3 linked regions of the Homo sapiens genome follow. The protein of the gene in region 1 purifies or fractionates together with the protein of each later gene. This does not show direct contact. Each region holds a gene or a part of one and is shown on either strand. Other genes may lie near its edges.

Evidence for each region.
Region 2: the proteins of FBXO22 (region 1) and KDM4A purify together in Homo sapiens (affinity purification with western blotting; 2 studies listed by BioGRID, with this or other methods). This does not show direct contact.
Region 3: the proteins of FBXO22 (region 1) and KDM4B purify together in Homo sapiens (affinity purification with western blotting; 3 studies listed by BioGRID, with this or other methods). This does not show direct contact.

The regions. Positions count from the first base shown.
Region 1 is NC_000015.10:75,927,759-75,934,877, reverse strand, and holds part of FBXO22 (F-box only protein 22), read right to left. Parts: intron 4,995-7,119; coding exon 4,829-4,994; coding exon of another isoform or gene 4,792-4,828; exon of another isoform or gene 4,011-4,791; intron 2,194-4,010; coding exon 1,776-2,193; 3' UTR 1-1,775. UniProt on the Homo sapiens protein: Substrate-recognition component of the SCF (SKP1-CUL1-F-box protein)-type E3 ubiquitin ligase complex that is implicated in the control of various cellular processes such as cell cycle control, transcriptional regulation, DNA damage repair, and apoptosis.
Region 2 is NC_000001.11:43,702,143-43,706,131, forward strand, and holds the end of KDM4A (lysine-specific demethylase 4A), read left to right. Parts: intron 1-513; exon of another isoform or gene 514-586; intron 587-1,421; exon of another isoform or gene 1,422-1,474; coding exon 1,475-1,594; intron 1,595-1,877; coding exon 1,878-1,970; intron 1,971-2,087; coding exon 2,088-2,228; 3' UTR 2,229-3,376; downstream 3,377-3,989. UniProt on the Homo sapiens protein: Histone demethylase that specifically demethylates 'Lys-9' and 'Lys-36' residues of histone H3, thereby playing a central role in histone code. Does not demethylate histone H3 'Lys-4', H3 'Lys-27' nor H4 'Lys-20'.
Region 3 is NC_000019.10:5,147,086-5,154,190, forward strand, and holds the end of KDM4B (lysine-specific demethylase 4B), read left to right. Parts: intron 1-3,272; coding exon 3,273-3,365; intron 3,366-4,249; coding exon 4,250-4,426; 3' UTR 4,427-6,513; downstream 6,514-7,105. UniProt on the Homo sapiens protein: Histone demethylase that specifically demethylates 'Lys-9' of histone H3, thereby playing a role in histone code. Does not demethylate histone H3 'Lys-4', H3 'Lys-27', H3 'Lys-36' nor H4 'Lys-20'.

The sequences.
Region 1 (7,119 bases):
CTAAGGCTCATTTTGTTCATATTTTCAGTTTTAAAAATCCCTTTTCCTCTACTATTCAACCAATTCTGGTTAATATCAGGGACAATAAAGTTTAAAAAATATTTGCCTTATGGGCTATATGAGCACATTCAAGGACTAAAATTTTGAGGTATTTTGATAATAGCTAAATAGCAAGAGCTAAATATAAATATTCATAGATGAAAAGTTTTGACAAATTTTTCTTTGGACTTGCCTCAGGAACTAGGATTTAGAATAACCATAAATTAAAGGACTCTTCCAAGCATTTTTATCATATATATATAAATAGCAAGAGAAAAATATTTTCAGTTTTAAAAAAAGGATAAAAGTGACAAAAAAGGAAAAGCAGGAATAATGCTAATACATTTGGTTTTACTTACCTTGCAAGTGTTCTACTGTCCTGTTAGAACAAACCACTGACTGTTACAAAAGTAACATTAGTTACATCATACTGTATTAGATGGAATATGCTAATTTCTCTCTTGTAAAACAGTCTGGAGGTAGATAGTCCACGCCACTTATGGTGTTTCTTCAATGAGGTCGTACAGGGACCAGGATCCTTCTGTTGTTTTTCTTCTACAATGGTGTGTTGCCTCCTCTTCAGGGTCCAAGATGGCTCACTACCAGATCCACATTCCAAGCAACAGGATGGAGAAAGGGGCAAATAAATGGTCATGCCATTTTAAGGACACAAAAAATCGTTTCCCCTCACATTCCATTGTCCAGAACACAGTCATACCTGCACAGGAGACTGGGAAATGTAGTCTTTATTCTAGGAGGCATACCCACTTGAAAAATCAAAGGTTCTATCATTATGTGAAAAGTAAAGAATGGATATTGAAGGAAAATTGGTGCTCTCTGCACATCTCTTATTTAGATATTTGTACAGAAATTCAAACTTGAAAATCATTCTACTGGGAATATGACAGGAATGACTAGCTGACATACCAACTATTCTGGGTTTTCATTTATAAAGGATTAGTTTACTTCCTTTGTTCATCCAAAAGCAATGAAATGCAAAACATTACCTGAATGAGTTCCACGCTATGTTTTATTGGTATAAAACCAAAATAAGATGATGTAATACTCTGGTCTACCAGTTAGTTAGCTATTTAGACCTAGGTGAAAAAAAAATATTTTTAAGGAAAGAAGAAAAATCTTTTACTTATAATAAAATACTGATTAGTCTTGTCAATTTATCTGACCAAAACAAAAATAGTTCTTTAATTTTTATCAAATAAGTAAAAAGTCAATAATAATATTGTTACTTCTGAAAAAATTCATAAAACTGAAAGGCAGAGAAAAATTTCTCCAGCCATCAGTATATTTTTCTCCTTTATTAAGGGAGAAAAAAGGTCTTCATGATTCTGCTAAAAGACATCACCTAACAACGCAAGGGGTAGTCAGGGAATGTCTTAAATCTATATCCTATTGATGAATACCCTTTTGCTCTTCCTATGCAGGAAGACTATTTAAGGTCATGTTACACAGCAGCTACATGATCTGGTGCAACACAACTATAATCAGTTTGCTTCTGCCTGATGCAAAAGCTCTCAACTCCTAGTCAGTGTTATGTCCAAAGTTGTCCTTCATCTAATATATTAAATACTACCCTCATGTGATCTTAGAGCATCAATCAAAGCTACAAAAAAGATATATCTAAAGTTATTTTTGTTTGAAATACACATGGCCCAAGTTTCCATTTTCTGAAAAAGGCAGAACCCAAAAGTTACATATTATGAAAGCCACTTTAATTATTATTTAGATGACCCCAGATGTATGAGTGCCATTATTGTTGTATAGCTATGAAACAGATCATCATCTTTTACCTCATTACATTTCCTCAATATAAAGTTCCCAGTGACTATCCGATCACATCCAATTTCTCCATTTCCAAAGAAGCCGAATAAGGGAACACTAGGAAAAAACTTTCTAAATGCATCAGCCTCAACATTCCCCTTGGCTCTGTAATACTGAAAGCCCCTGCCAACGCATGCAAACATGAAGCCAATGGTGTTATGCTCTGGAATGTTGGCCGCTTTGAGGCGCTGCATCGCAGCCTCAGCAGTCTTCTCATCACTGACGTCCTCGTTGAGGAGCACAGTGGCACTCTGGATTCGGTGTCCACTAAATGACAGTCCAACCACACCCGAGGCATCAATATCCAGAGGGTTCCTGGAAAATTTAGAAAAGTGGCAATATCTCATGAAACATTAAAATTTTTAAGTATAGAAGCAAAATCCTCCTGATTCACTGACGGGAGGCTGCTGCCTTTAGCAGCCTATGGTTAATCTGAGGCTCACCCTCATAGGTGAGTAAAATAGGGTCAAAAATCAAAATTAATACATAAAAAATGCACAAGGCAGATCAAGAGAAGCCACCATTTTTTTCAGTCACAAATACAAAGGGGCAATGCACATCCATAACGATTTCTGAAACCCATATCCGGTTATTAGAAAGTACAGTTTCCTTACCTTTCTGACTTCCTTAAAAGGAATGTTATAATTTTATTAATATACACAAAGATATCCACTAAACGAAGCCTTCTGCTATTGTTTACATTAACATCTCTTCCCCCCGACTTCAGCTGTCAAATTCTGAAAGATGTATATTAAAAATATAATAATGGAGGGTGATTTTATTTTTTTAGAGATAGGGTTCTCTGTTAGCTAGGCTGAAGTGCAGTGGCACAATCATAGCTCACTGCAGCCTCAAACTCGTGGGATAAAGCAATCCTCCTGCCTGAGTCTCTCAAGGAGCTGGGGCTACAGATACATGCCACCACACCTGGCTAATCTGTAAACATTTTGTAGAGATAGGGTCTCACTATGTTGCTCAGACTGGTCTCAAACTCCTGGGCTCAAGCAATCCTCCTGCCTCAGCCTCCCAAAGTTCTGGGATTACAGGCATGAGCCACTGCACTCAGAGGATAATTTTAAAAACCTATTAACTCTAGAAGTTTTAGCTTTATGTCTAGTCCACTAGAAAATATGATTATGTTATTTTTTTGTCTTGTTTATTGCTTTGAGTCTAGAGTTCAGCTTAATTTGATGGTAAAAACTCATGCTTTGTTTTTGTTTATATTTGCCTGGTTTTTTTAAAAAATGAAATATCCTTACAAAAGAAAATACAACATTGATAAAAGTAATAAAGCATAATATAGTGAACATCCACTAGGGGATAAACAAGTATTGTATCATGCTTCCAACATCTGAATCTATAAAATGGGCAAGAGTCACTGGATTAGTGAGAAACTAAGACGCAAAAAGGTTAAGTGACTAAAGTAATAAGGCTAGCTAGTAGTAAAACAAGTTTGTGAGGGGCAAAATCCGTCTTCTGAAGTCCTCTGCTGCTCTTAAAACTTTATCACATTTCCTCTTTGGTACAGAATTGTTAATATACATTGTCAATCTTGCCTCAAAGAATTATACATCTTCCTTTTGGGGCACTGGGTCAGTTGGGTTATCTGGACTTTATTAAAATGGAGCCCTCATTTACTCAATGGTTTCTCTTAACCACTGACAGAGTATGAAGACCACATTAAAATTAATGGGTCATGTGAAGAGTAATGATTGGGGTGGGGGGTGTTTCTCTTATTAGGTATAAAAAGTAGATGATATACAAATAGCTACACTTACAAGCTAGCACCTCAGATGTTATAAGTCTGAGTGAGGTATCTGCATTTCAAAGGTAAACTGTATGTTGAATCACCATTGCCCTATCCGTACACAATTTAAGTTAATAGCAAAGACACAGGAAAAATTAGGCAAGAGGGGAAATAACTTAGATAGCCACCAAGAATTCAGTGTATGTATGCACAAAATCCAGTGTTTGATATCCTGCCTGGGATTCAACGTACTTGGCCTTCCTCTCTTCCTCCTCCCTGGCAGTCCAGGGACCTCAACTTTAGCTATTTTCCCAGATCTAGCTCATAGAGATAACCAGAAGAGAGACTATAACTAGGATGACTTACATTATTCTTATAGATACTGATCTGCAACAGTCTGTCCCCATGTCACCACTCTAGGATGCAAATATTAAACAGAGTGGGAAACAAATAGTAGTGTTTACAAGCATTGAGGGTGGGGTAGGGTCTGATTTTCCTGCTGGAAACAAATGATATTTATGTCCACCTAATTGTTTCAAACTCAAAATGATATGTATTTTCATTCAAGATGGAAAGGAAGTAATGGCTCCCAAGACAGAAGAGCAAATATTTTTATCTTTGAAAGCAAAAGCCTTAGTAACAAAAAAGATCCACAATTTTTAAGCTTGAAAAAGCCTTTCAAAAGATCTAATACAGAATTTCCAAAAACCAGTACGACTTGCAAGACATTCTGTGGAAAAAAGTTTTGTGACCAAACACATTTGGGAACTGTCACAGGTAATGCTATTCTCCTTCCAGATTTCCACAGCACTGGGCATATTAGAAGCTCTGAGAAGTTTTGCCATAAAGATACACTCTAACCATGTGTTTCCTTTAAAGGAGGAAACTAGAAAGGAGGTGACACATTGAGGTCACACAGAGTACCACATCTGTCAAAGGAAAGATCAACAGGCAATGTCAAATTTTAAGGAGAATGTGACTCAAGGAAGTTCTTGAAGGACAATATATATAAAAATGTAATTATTCAACCGTAAGCAGAATTATGTTCAGTAAGCCCCTTAGCCAATGTCTACTACAAAATGGAATGAACTATTATCTTAATAATTCTTTAAACACGTTTTTTAAATTGTTAACCCCAAAGTGACAAAACCTGAGACCATTTCCCTTCATTCACAGACGAAATCAGAAGCACACAAGACATACTTTTCAGAAGTCAGTGATGACAGGTTGTCCACCTGGCCTCCAGCCAAGATGATATTCATATCACTGAAAGTGCTGACTACTTGCTGCAGATAATTACTGGCTCCCACCTTACAGCAATTATAACCAAAGACAAGGACCACACGAAGTTCAGGGTTATCTAAAAGACCTGCAGAGAAATGAAGAGCAACAGTTAAAGACAGCCTTAAAACAGAAATTATTTTATACATGCTGCAAAATGAAATGTTACTGACTTGCACTCCACCTTAAGGGCAATTTAGTGGCTTAAGCTATCAAATTTTCCATTTTTTATTTTTTATCTTATTTTATATCCTCTTCGATCTCTGTATCAAGTTTTCCATTTTTTACAAACATTATGCAAAATCTTAATTATTTTTTCTATTAAAAAAACTAAATGGCTATTTGTGTTAATAAATAATGCAATCAACACAAATAATGAAGCAGCTATGTACTGAGCAGCAACTCTTGGTAGACCAAGGTGCAAGCTGGCTCTCAGTAGGGAACAAAAAAAAAAAAACACTGGTTTACACAGAGCTGTGCTAGCAGCAGTGAGAATTTACAGATTTTTTATTTTTTAAAGGAGAGAAAAGGCGCTAACCACTTATAGTGTGGTGAACAGTGCCCCCTGCCCATGCCAAAGGTATATCCACATCAAACCTCTGGAACCTATGCATGTAAGCTTATTTGGAAAAAGGATCTTTAAAAAAAATTTTTTTTTTTTTGGTAGAGATGGGGTCTCGCTATGTTAGTAAGGATCTTAAGATTAAATCATCTGGTCTATCCACGTGGGCTCTAAATCCAATGACAGTGTCCTCATAATGAAAGATGTACAAAGGAGAGACAGAGAAGAAAAGGCAGTGTGACCACAGAAGCAGAAACTGGAGCGGTAGGAAGAGAAAAAGAACAGACTCTCCCCTACAGCCTCCCAAGGTAGCACTACCCCTACTGCCATCTCAATTTCAGACTTCTGGCCTCCTGAACTGTGCAGAATAAATTTCTCGTTTTATGTCACCAAATTTGGGGTACTTTGTTACAGCAGCCTAAGAAACTACTACATCACTGAAATACAGGCTTTATTCACCTCCTCCACGGAAGCAGGTGAGAGTAAAGGCGAATTAGCCTTTGAAAGTTCCTTGCAAAGCAGGAAAATGTTCAATTCTGTGACACAGGAACTAAAAGCTGCTACCGCTAGGAGGTGGCAGAGTGTAACAGAGACAGCCTACTTGCTCTGCCCACAGCTCCCAGGTTTCACTGGAGCCTCTGGCAGCTTGTTTATAGACTATCAATTTGATTTTTTTTTTAAGTTCAGGGATACATGTTCAGGTTTGTTCCACAGGCAAACGTGTGTCATGGGGGTTTGTTGTGCAGATTATTTCATCACCCAGGTAATAAGCCCATTCTCCATTAGTTATTTTTCCTGATCCTCTCCTTCCTCACACCCTCCACCCTCTGGTAGGCCCCAGTGTCTGTTGTGCCCCTCTTTGCGTCGATGTATTCTCATCATTTAGCTCCCACTTATAAATGAGAACATGCAGTATTTGGTTTTCTGTTTCTGTGTTAGTTTGCTAATGATAATGGCCTCCAGCTCCATCCATGTCCCTGCAAAGGACGTGATCTCATTCTTTTTTATGGCTGCATATGTACTACATTTTCTTTATCCAGTTTATCACTGATGGGCATTCAGGTTGATTCCATGTCTTTGCTACTGTGAATAGTGCTGCAATGAACATACATGTGCATGTGTCTTTATAACAGAATAATTTATATTCCTTTGAATATATACCCAGTAATAGGACTGCTGGGTCAAATGGTATTTCTGTCTTTAGGTCTTTGAGGAATCACCACACTATCTTCCACAATGGCTGAACTAATTTACACTCCCACCGACAGTGTATAAGTGTTCCTTTTTCTCCACAAACTTGCCAGCATCTGTTATTTTTTGACTTTTTAATAGCCATTCTGCCTAGTATGGGATACGATCTCATTGTGGTTTTGATTTGCATTTCTCTAATGATCAGTGATGTGGAGCTTTTTTTCCTATGATTGTTGGCCGCATGTATGTCTTCTGCCAGCATTACCAAACGGGTGCTTTGGGGACAGGAAAATGAATCTAATACCTAACACACTTGTGTTTCCATTTGATTTGACCACATGACTTCCACCTTGACAAACCTAAGGTGGTTACCAGAAAGGAGAGTTACTTAAGGAAACAAAGGGTATGCAGATGCGTGAATGACCAATTACTAACACCAAATAATGACCTATTCTGGGAA
Region 2 (3,989 bases), on another chromosome or scaffold:
TTAATATTATAAAAATAGCCATGTCTCACTTGCTCCCTGACAGTGTCTCAGGAACCCCTCAGAGGTTCACAGACCACATTTTCAGAAGTGCTGTTATAGGAGGTGGAACTGAATTGCAGAGAACTTAAACAATTTATCAAATATCAAACATTTGAGTAGTTAAATCTTAGAACACCTCAGATATTGGGTGTAGGAGGCTGTAGTTTATGCCTAATTGTTAGATTGATACAAAATGTATTTACTGATTACCTATTCAGTAAATGAATTGTCAATAAGTAGGGAACTGTTTCCACTCAATAAATGAACTGTAGCATGATTGTAAGAGCAGATGTGAGCATCCACATCCTTTTAGACTCACTGCCCTGCCCCTCTCTCATTTTTTAAGCCATGTCCCTAAGGACCTTCTCCCAGGTATACCTATCAGACCTTTCATTCAGCCAATATGCTGAATGAAATATCCCCCCGTATACCAAGCCCTATGCTGGGAATACGATGAGGACTTGGGGTACTTACCTGCTTCTGGAAGGAATAAAAGTTCTGAAGTACTTTGCCAGGTCCCATGGTAGGTGACTCTTTTTCATCTTTCCTGTTAAGAACATATTTCTTGGTTGGGCACAGTGGCTCATGCCTGTAATCCCACCACTTTGGCAAGCCGAGGCAGGCAGATCACCTGAGGTAAGGAGTTCGAGACCAGACTGGCCAACATGGTGAAACCCCGTCTCTACTAAAAATACAAAGATTAGCTGGGCATGGTGGCACGTGCCTGTTGTCCCAGCTACTCGGGAGGCTGAGGCAGGAGGATTGCTAGAACCCAGGAGGCTGAGGTTGCAATGAGCCAAGATCAGGCCACTGTATTCCAGCGTGATCTCAGCTCTCTGCAAGCTCCGCCTCCTGGGTTCACACCATTCTCCTGCCTCAGACTCCCGAGTAGCTGGGACTACAGGCGCCTGCCACCACACCTGGCTAATTTTTTGCATTTTTAGTAGAGATGGGGTTTCACCATGTTAGCCAGGATGGTCTTGATCTCCTGACCTGGTGATCTGCCTGCCTCAGCCTCCCAAAGTGCTGCGATTACAGGCATGAGCCACCGTGCCTGGCCAAAAAAAACACATGTCTTATAGTTGAGTATGGTTCTAGTATTTCTTCATGGCAGAGCCCTGGAGAACCCGCAGGGGAACAGTTGAGGGAATGTAAGAAGGACTCTTGATTCTGGCACTTAACTCCTGTGTTTACTAAGTTTGTTATAGCTGGATTTTTTTTTTTTTTTTGGTCACCTAGAAGCAGGAGAGGGCAGAGATAGGGGCAGACTTTGACTTAGCAAGGTCTTTAACTGTTAACATTTTTCAGCCCAGAGAGCTGCCTTGCTCTCTAAAACAGTTACTTTGTCCTGGTTCACTCTTCCCTGAGTAGAGGACAGTTACCTTTGTGTGCAGGTGGACGTTCCTTTCACCCTCCTTCCTTCCTGTTTCCTCAGAGCCAGGACTGTCTCCAGTTTGGTCCTCCTGCTGAAGGGGAAGTGGTCCAAGTGAGATGGACAGACGGCCAAGTCTATGGAGCCAAGTTTGTGGCCTCCCACCCTATCCAAATGTACCAGGTATCCAAAGTTCTACCTTTCTAGGGAGTGGGGGGTGCTTGATTAATTCTGTGCTTCCTGTTGGGCCAGAGGCGAGTCTTTGCTCTTAGGAGAACTAATAGGTTGGTAACCCTTTCAGAGCTAGGGGTCTGCCCTGTTTCCAGTCTGCCAAATGTGAAGTAAGGTAGTTGTTATTTTAGTGTTCTAACTCCTTCCTTTGACTGTAGGGGACTGCCACTGTGCATGGTGGACCAGGGAAAGAGTCAGGGATATCCTAGCCAAAAGGCCTTTGTTTCCTTGGTAGGTGGAGTTTGAGGATGGCTCACAACTTGTGGTTAAGAGAGATGATGTATACACACTGGATGAAGAGCTTCCCAAGAGAGTCAAATCTAGACTGGTGAGTATTTTCTGTGTCCCCCCAGTTCCTGTCTTGGAGGGAGGGAACAAGTCAAGGATGCATCCCTTTGTATTGTTCCTGGGGTAGCTGACACTTGGCTTGCTTATTCTTCTATAGTCAGTAGCCTCAGACATGCGCTTCAATGAGATTTTCACAGAGAAAGAGGTTAAGCAAGAAAAGAAACGGCAACGAGTTATCAACTCAAGATACCGGGAAGATTATATTGAGCCTGCACTATACCGGGCCATCATGGAGTAGGTGCTTCCAGGGTCCAAGGGATTCTCAGCCATCCAGGCAAGAGCACTCTGGGTTCCACAGCACAGCAGACATGGAACGCTGAAGTCTCTGAAAGTGAAGTTGTAAAAAGAAAAGGAATGAAATAACCGACCCATCATCTTCTCACCCACCCTCATTGCATTCCGCTGTAGTGAAAGGACGAGCCATTTCTGGGCACGTGGCAGCAGTCGCTGATCTCCCAGCTGAGGGGCTGAGCACTGGAATGCTGTGGCTGCACTGGCCCCAGTCCATAGAGGGGTCAACTATGCTGGCTGGACTGGCTGCCTTGTTCCTGGCCTAGGACTTAGCTTCATAACTATCACCTGCACCGACTAGGCTGAGGTGCTGGTACTTGCCCCAACCCCTACTTTTGTATTTATATGTGTGTGTGTGTGTGCGTGCGTGCGTGCGTGCGTGTATGTTTGGTCTGGACCAGCTTCTGCCAGCCCCTGGCCTTTACTTTCTTCCTTGCCTATGCAGGGCAAACAAAATGTGAAATTCTGCCCTCAGCTGAGCTGAGTAAGGGCTCCTGGGGGTTGGCTGGAGATGGGTGTGGCATCTGTCCAGGCCTGGAACCGTCTCAAGACAGTGCTGGCAAAGCTGCAGTATTGAGATGCTAAGGAGCTGATGCCACCTCTTTGTCTTCCCCTAAAGGAGAACATGGGGATAACATGGGTGTGTGCCCACAACACTCTAGGTGCAGAGCCCCTGTGGCAAAGTATTACAGGGTGTGGGTGGGGATTACCCTGAATCGGGGATTTTAATGATGGAAGCAGGCAGAGCCTGGTGGGTGATTCTGTCAACAGAAAATTGCAATCATGCAGGGGCTGGGAGGGTTAGGATGAAAAAACTGGGGCCATTGGAGGCCCACTGTAGGTGGGAGGGAGCTGATTTTGGGGTGGGGGGTGGGACTAGAGGGCAATACTGAAGGGGTTAAACAGGTTTTTGCTCCTCAAGAATTTGTTTGCCTGGGCCCAGGATTGGAGGGCTTCACACCAATACCCTGTGTATACAAGAATCAGATTTATAATACTTCCCCTTTTTTGTTACGTATGAACACTATAAACCAAATTATTTTGAAAACTGGTGCATCACCTTGTCCTTAGCAATAAAATGTGTTGAGCAGAGGATTGGCTGTCTGCCCCAAGGAGCCCACGTGGCCCACGTCAGGCTGGGGGGTGTATCTAGAGTCATAGGCTCTGGAGCGGGGCTGTGTATTTTAAGACAAATCAGTAAGGCATTCCCTAGGAAGTTCCAGAGAGTGGGTCCTTTGCTTGTCAAGCTCTGTATTAGGCCAAGTATGGTGGGTCATGGGAGCAGGGACACTTCTGGCTCTGAGCACCTCTTTGTTGTGCTTGCTCTGCCTTAGAGACGGGCAAGATGAGGTAACAGAGGAAGCACCAGACCAATGAGTCCTCTCAACAGAGTATCTCTCACTGCTGCCCCATTTGATACATCTTTGTTGAACTGGCCTAAGTTCATGCCAGCATCTGTGCTCTATACAAATTGTGGAACCAGTGGGAAGGATGGGTGCATTTTAGGTGCTTGAAAAGCAAGGGACTCAACCTCCAGTGGGATCCTCAGATTGCTCTCCGAGCTGTCTAGTTGGTGAGAAGCTTCCCTGGAGGAAGACCCAATCTCCTTTGGCTGGTAGATCCCTGAGGTCAAAGTGGACAAGGATGGGGAACCACAGAGCAGGGAGGGGGGCAATGAATAGGTGCAGGACTTGGGTGCCCCGGAGCT
Region 3 (7,105 bases), on another chromosome or scaffold:
GACTGGACTCCGAGGAGGGGAGGTTGAGCCAGGACCTCTAGAACACCATGGAAGTTTACTCCAGAGATCAGGCTGAGCATGTGCCAGTCTCTCTCCCTCCCTCAAGAAACCTATGGAGATGATAGAAAACACACAAATAGATAAATAGCCATTTATAACGTACACAGAGCACAACTGTGGTGGAAAATGACAAGGGAGACTCAGGGTGGGTCTTGACAACATCCCACAGAAGAGGCGCTGACGCAGCCCCCACCCTGGTGGCGAAGGAAGTGCTCCCAGGATCATTGTCATGTCACCAGAGCCCAGGCAGGGCCAGCGTCAGGGGAGCTCACCTCAAGGAAGCCGAGCTAATGAGACAGTCAGAAATGAGATGATGCCAGCCAGGCGCGGGGGCTCATGCTGTGATCGCAGCACTGTGGGAGGCTGAGGTGGGCAGAGCGCTTGAGCACAGGGGTTCGAGACCAGCCTGGGCAACGCAGCAAAACCCTGTCTCTACAAAAAAACAAAATTAGCTGGGCATGGTGGCACGCACCTTTAGTCCCAGCTACTTGGGAAGCTGAGGTGGGAGGATCACTTGAGCCTGGGAGGTTGAGGATTCAGTGATCCAAGATCGCGCCACTGCACTCCAACCCGGGTGATGAAACAAAGCCCTGTCTCAAAAAAAAAAAAAAAAAAAAGTCACATTTCCAGAGTGCTCGGGGCGGGGGGGCAGAGGCTGTGGAATCAGGAATGGGTGGTATCGGAAGCCAGCAAGCCACCGTGGAGTGCGCGCCTGCCTGCGAGGTGGCGGCAGGACCTCGATCACACAATCATGCAAACGCCCGCTGTGTGGTGGCCAAGGAGATGGGGCTGGAGCTGCCTGCCCCGAGGCCAAGGGCCTGGTCAGCGGGGCGGGTGGCTGGGGTGGGCCCAGGTGACAGCGAGGCCGAGTGGCTGAGACCCCCACATGCCAAGGCCCCAAGAGCCTCCCCGCCTGTCCGGAACACTTGGAACATGTTTCCCTCGCACGTGACCCCTCGAGATGCTTCTGAGACGTGCCGGGCAAGACGTCACCACAGGGAGCCCGGGCCGAGGCGCACGCCTCTGATTTCCTGTAGCTGCAAGTATATCCAGTTTTCTCAAAATGTTAAAAAGCAAACGCCGCCTTCAGAACTCGCCCTGTGGAGACTCATAGTGAAAGCACGTTCCAGGGAGGCCACTGGGAGGAAATCAGCCTGAGTCTCCAGTCAGCCCCCAGTTCCCAAATGACCCAGGCACAGAAGTTTCCCTGGAGCCCACTTGGACCCGGCAGTGTGAGCGCCATCCTCCTAGGCGGTTCTGTGCTCCTGAGAATCTGGGGCGGATCTCTGCAGTCTTCCTGACCCAGAAACCTGAGCCAGTTTCCACTGAGTTTCTAGAACGCGCCTTCCCCTCCTGGCAAGGCTGCTTCTGTGCCTGACTGAATCACTGTGTGCCACGCCTGCCAGAAGCCGAGAGGCCGAGTCGGGGCCGGGGAGCTGGGGAAAGGCAGCAGGTGGGCCCTGGGACTCCTGCAGTGGGAGCTCTAAAACCCGCTGCTGCCCGTGGCAAAGCGGAGCCTCCAAAACCCGCTGCTGCCCTTGGCAAAGCGGAGCCTCCAAAACCCGCTGCTGCCCGTGGCAAAGCGGAGCCTGGCCACGCCGGGGGTGGAAATCGCTTTCCGGGGTGCTGGGGCTCCGACACTAGGACTCCTTCACCCAGACTCTCCTCACCGGACAGACGCTGGGAAGGGGCCTTCTCCCGGTGGCTTTCCTCTACAAATGAGATGGGTAGGACGGGGCAGAGGGTGGCACCCATGTCCTTGGTTCCCAGCAGGCTCCTCCACACATCCCCGAGAGATGTGTGCTGTCGTCCCAGGACACGGCCCAGAGGCAACCGGCCATCTGAGAGTCCACACTGGGCACTCCCAGCCCTGCTTCTCCCGCCGCCTGCGCCGGCCAAGAGGCATGTGGAACCCACAGCAGACACTTGCTCCAGGGCCTACGTCTGTCTCCATCCCCACCCATCCCTGGAGGAGTCACAGGGACCGGCAGGCTTGGCTGCCCCAAGGCAGGGTCTGTGCTCCCTTGGAGAGGGAGGTGCTGCGATCCCGGGCCCCCCCGCTGCACACTACGTGGGGCGTCTAGCCCCAGACACACTTCCGCGATGGTCTTACTGTGTGACTTTTATACACTTCCGTCATGGTCTTAGTGTGTGACTTTTGTACGCTTCTGTGACAGTCTTATGTGTGCATTTTGTTCATTTTGAGACGGGGTCTTGATCTGTCACCCAGCCTGGAGTGCAGTGACATAATTAGAGCTCACTACAGCCTCCACCTCAGCCTCCTGGGTAGCTGGGACCACAGGCACATGCCACCATGCCTGGCTTGTTTTGAGTTTTTAAATGTGAAAAGCGAGCCCTCTGATATGGGAACCTTCTCCCCCTGGAGCAGAACGGCAGTCAGGCCCAGGGAGTGACCCCAGCACCTTTCCTGGCTTGGGAACACGGCGCCCATCGCAGTTATGAGGTGGGCCTGGAGACACGCCCCTCCCTGGCACGCCCTTCATGGGACAGTGTTGTGTTGCCAGAGGGCCCCTGAGAGAGTCTCCGCGAGCCTGAGCTGGCACCAAGCTTAACGAGGAGGAAGCGGGGTGCTCCCAGTGCCCCTCACCAGTCAGGCATCTGCCACCTGGAACAAGGCACCAGCTGGGGAGGCTGGAAGGGGGTGATTTTTCTCTGAGTTGAAGGGAAGAGGTGACTGAGCTGTTTTCAGAGGGCCACACATAAGCCAGGGACCCTGTCCTTCACCTTCTGGTTGGGGGCTCCTGAGCTCAGGCCCCTGAGTCCGCCTGTCCGGCCTCCCCTGCCTCCCAGGCCCTGTTAGGGCACTGCGCCTCCTGCCTGGCTCTGTGTCCACCAGTGACTCTGTCACCTTGTCCTGGGGCTGTGTCTTCATGGAGACAGATGTCTTTTGAGCTGGGAGGAGGTGAGGGGTGAGTGTTCTGTCTCCATGTGGAAGCTGCGGGGCCCTGCCTCTGCCCCAGGCTGTCCCGTCCTCCGTCATCCTTGCCCCGTGGTACGGGACCCTCAGCCTGATCCTTGTTTGCTGCAGGCGGTGTCAGAGGTGGACATGAGCTTCAGCTTGGCTGCATGTGGCCTCTAGCGGGCCCCATGCACCCAAGGGGGCTGGCCTCCCAGCTCTTGAGGCCGTGGCCTGCCTGGAGCACCTGCCATCCTGGCAGTGCCAGGCCCCTGAGAGCCACATCCCCCTGCAGGTGGAGTTTGAGGACGGGTCCCAGCTGACGGTGAAGCGTGGGGACATCTTCACCCTGGAGGAGGAGCTGCCCAAGAGGGTCCGCTCTCGGCTGGTGAGTGCGCGAGGCTGGCCTGGTGGCTCCGGGTGACTCAGGGAGCCCGTCTGGGACGAGGCAGGGCACAGACTGCGTCTTCCAATGGCGTGGACCACCCCCTCCTCTTGCACCTCTGCTGGAAGGGGGTCCCGGCCGCCCCAGCACAGCTGGTCCATGGGCTCCTGGCAGGAGACCCTTCCTTTGCCTTGACTCCTGGTGCCGCAGCTCCTGGGCGATGCCGTTAATGTGGGGAGGGAGGGTTGGAGAAGCCCCGCCCCTCCCCTTATCACGAATGCAGAACAGACCCTCCCAGCCCCCTGTGCCCTGCAGGACCCGCGCTGCCCCACCCTGCACAGGGCGGCCTCTGAACCATCACAGGTTTTGGGGTACAGGCGAAGTACGGGCACCCCAGTTGTCGGCTTAAAAAAGCTTTTCCTGAGGTTTTTCCTTATTAAACGGGAGCCTGAGTCCTGGAGGCAGCGGAGGCAGCTCCAGCTTTCGCTCCCCCAGCCCTCATGGGCTTCCTTTATTCTCTTTCTAATCGAGAGGCGAGAGGCGAGGTGTTGAGGGGCAGAGCCCGTGGGGGAGGTTCCTGGTCCTGGCCACAGCTGCTCAGCCGCAGAGGGGTCCCTCGGAAAACAGATGGGAGCTGCCAGATGGACGGTCCCAGCCCCAGCCAGGGTGCCCACCCCACTAGGGGGCCAGAGGCTGGGGCCGAGTGCAGGGCCCCTCTGCTGGCAGGATCAGGGGTTTACAAACACGAAAACAGGAGCCTGCTGAGCAGCCCCCACAGCAATCAGGGCTCTGTGTCCAGCCAGCTCCTCTCAGAGGCCATAGACAGTGGCTGGGGCCGCACAGAGTGTCTCCACCGTGCTAACCACTGTGCTTCCGCTCTCCCGCAGTCACTGAGCACGGGGGCACCGCAGGAGCCCGCCTTCTCGGGGGAGGAGGCCAAGGCCGCCAAGCGCCCGCGTGTGGGCACCCCGCTTGCCACGGAGGACTCCGGGCGGAGCCAGGACTACGTGGCCTTCGTGGAGAGCCTCCTGCAGGTGCAGGGCCGGCCCGGAGCCCCCTTCTAGGACAGCTGGCCGCTCAGGCGACCCTCAGCCCGGCGGGGAGGCCATGGCATGCCCCGGGCGTTCGCTTGCTGTGAATTCCTGTCCTCGTGTCCCCGACCCCCGAGAGGCCACCTCCAAGCCGCGGGTGCCCCCTAGGGCGACAGGAGCCAGCGGGACGCCGCACGCGGCCCCAGACTCAGGGAGCAGGGCCAGGCGGGCTCGGGGGCCGGCCAGGGGAGCACCCCACTCAACTACTCAGAATTTTAAACCATGTAAGCTCTCTTCTTCTCGAAAAGGTGCTACTGCAATGCCCTACTGAGCAACCTTTGAGATTGTCACTTCTGTACATAAACCACCTTTGTGAGGCTCTTTCTATAAATACATATTGTTTAAAAAAAAGCAAGAAAAAAAGGAAAACAAAGGAAAATATCCCCAAAGTTGTTTTCTAGATTTGTGGCTTTAAGAAAAACAAAACAAAACAAACACATTGTTTTTCTCAGAACCAGGATTCTCTGAGAGGTCAGAGCATCTCGCTGTTTTTTTGTTGTTGTTTTAAAATATTATGATTTGGCTACAGACCAGGCAGGGAAAGAGACCCGGTAATTGGAGGGTGAGCCTCGGGGGGGGGGCAGGACGCCCCGGTTTCGGCACAGCCCGGTCACTCACGGCCTCGCTCTCGCCTCACCCCGGCTCCTGGGCTTTGATGGTCTGGTGCCAGTGCCTGTGCCCACTCTGTGCCTGCTGGGAGGAGGCCCAGGCTCTCTGGTGGCCGCCCCTGTGCACCTGGCCAGGGGAAGCCCGGGGGTCTGGGGCCTCCCTCCGTCTGCGCCCACCTTTGCAGAATAAACTCTCTCCTGGGGTTTGTCTATCTTTGTTTCTCTCACCTGAGAGAAACGCAGGTGTTCCAGAGGCTTCCTTGCAGACAAAGCACCCCTGCACCTCCTATGGCTCAGGATGAGGGAGGCCCCCAGGCCCTTCTGGTTGGTAGTGAGTGTGGACAGCTTCCCAGCTCTTCGGGTACAACCCTGAGCAGGTCGGGGGACACAGGGCCGAGGCAGGCCTTCGGGGCCCCTTTCGCCTGCTTCCGGGCAGGGACGAGGCCTGGTGTCCTCGCTCCACCCACCCACGCTGCTGTCACCTGAGGGGAATCTGCTTCTTAGGAGTGGGTTGAGCTGATAGAGAAAAAACGGCCTTCAGCCCAGGCTGGGAAGCGCCTTCTCCAGGTGCCTCTCCCTCACCAGCTCTGCACCCCTCTGGGGAGCCTTCCCCACCTTAGCTGTCTCCTGCCCCAGGGAGGGATGGAGGAGATAATTTGCTTATATTAAAAACAAAAAATGGCTGAGGCAGGAGTTTGGGACCAGCCTGGGCTATATAGCAAGACCCCATCACTACAAATTTTTTACAAATTAGCTAGGTGTGGTGGTGCGCACCTGTGGTCCCAGCTACTCGGGAGGCTGTGGTGGGAGGATTGCTTGAGTCCAGGAGGTTGAGGCTGCAGTCAGCTCAGATTGCACCACTGCACTCCAGCCTGGGCAACAGAGCGAGACCCTGTCTCCAAAAAAAAAAAAAAGCAATGTTTATATTATAAAAGAGTGTCCTAACAGTCCCCGGGCTAGAGAGGACTAAGGAAAACAGAGAGAGTGTTACGCAGGAGCAAGCCTTTCATTTCCTTGGTGGGGGAGGGGGGCGGTTGCCCTGGAGAGGGCCGGGGTCGGGGAGGTTGGGGGGTGTCAGCCAAAACGTGGAGGTGTCCCTCTGCACGCAGCCCTCGCCCGGCGTGGCGCTGACACTGTATTCTTATGTTGTTTGAAAATGCTATTTATATTGTAAAGAAGCGGGCGGGTGCCCCTGCTGCCCTTGTCCCTTGGGGGTCACACCCATCCCCTGGTGGGCTCCTGGGCGGCCTGCGCAGATGGGCCACAGAAGGGCAGGCCGGAGCTGCACACTCTCCCCACGAAGGTATCTCTGTGTCTTACTCTGTGCAAAGACGCGGCAAAACCCAGTGCCCTGGTTTTTCCCCACCCGAGATGAAGGATACGCTGTATTTTTTGCCTAATGTCCCTGCCTCTAGGTTCATAATGAATTAAAGGTTCATGAACGCTGCGAAACCCCGTTCCATGCCCCGGCAAGTGTCTTCATTTCTGAGCCTGTGCTAGGGGGACTGATGTTGGGGCCTCCCTGGGGTGGGGCTGCCTGCGCCCCGTTCTCCCGGGAGAAGGTTTGCTTCCAGAGCTGGATGTCCCTCCCCTCCCACTCTCCAGGGTCCCCAACACACCCCCACACACCCAGGGGCAGCTGTCATGCCCCTCATGCTGTGGCCAGGCTGGGTGGCTGGGGCAGCGGACCCCATGATTCCCCCTCAGTTCTCTGGAGGCCTGGCCCTGGCCTCACTCGTCCCAGCCAGCAGCTGCCCTGTCCCTGTCCCCCATCCGGTTCTGGTTACATCTGAGCCCCGAGAGCATTGCTTGTGGTGGTGGTGGCTGGCAGACGTGCTAGGCGCTGGGGCTCACGGCCCTGGATGGCCACTGGGACCCAGCAGTCCTGGCCTGGGTCACTCAGTGCCCAGCCCCACCAGGCCTGGAGTCGGCAGAGGGGACACGGGAGACCTGAGCCTCCCTCAGGGAGGTGACCCTCCTGTGCCTGGTGTGCGGCAAGAACATGAAGAGGCCCCTGTGGCTGGAGCAGAGGGAGGCAGGGGAG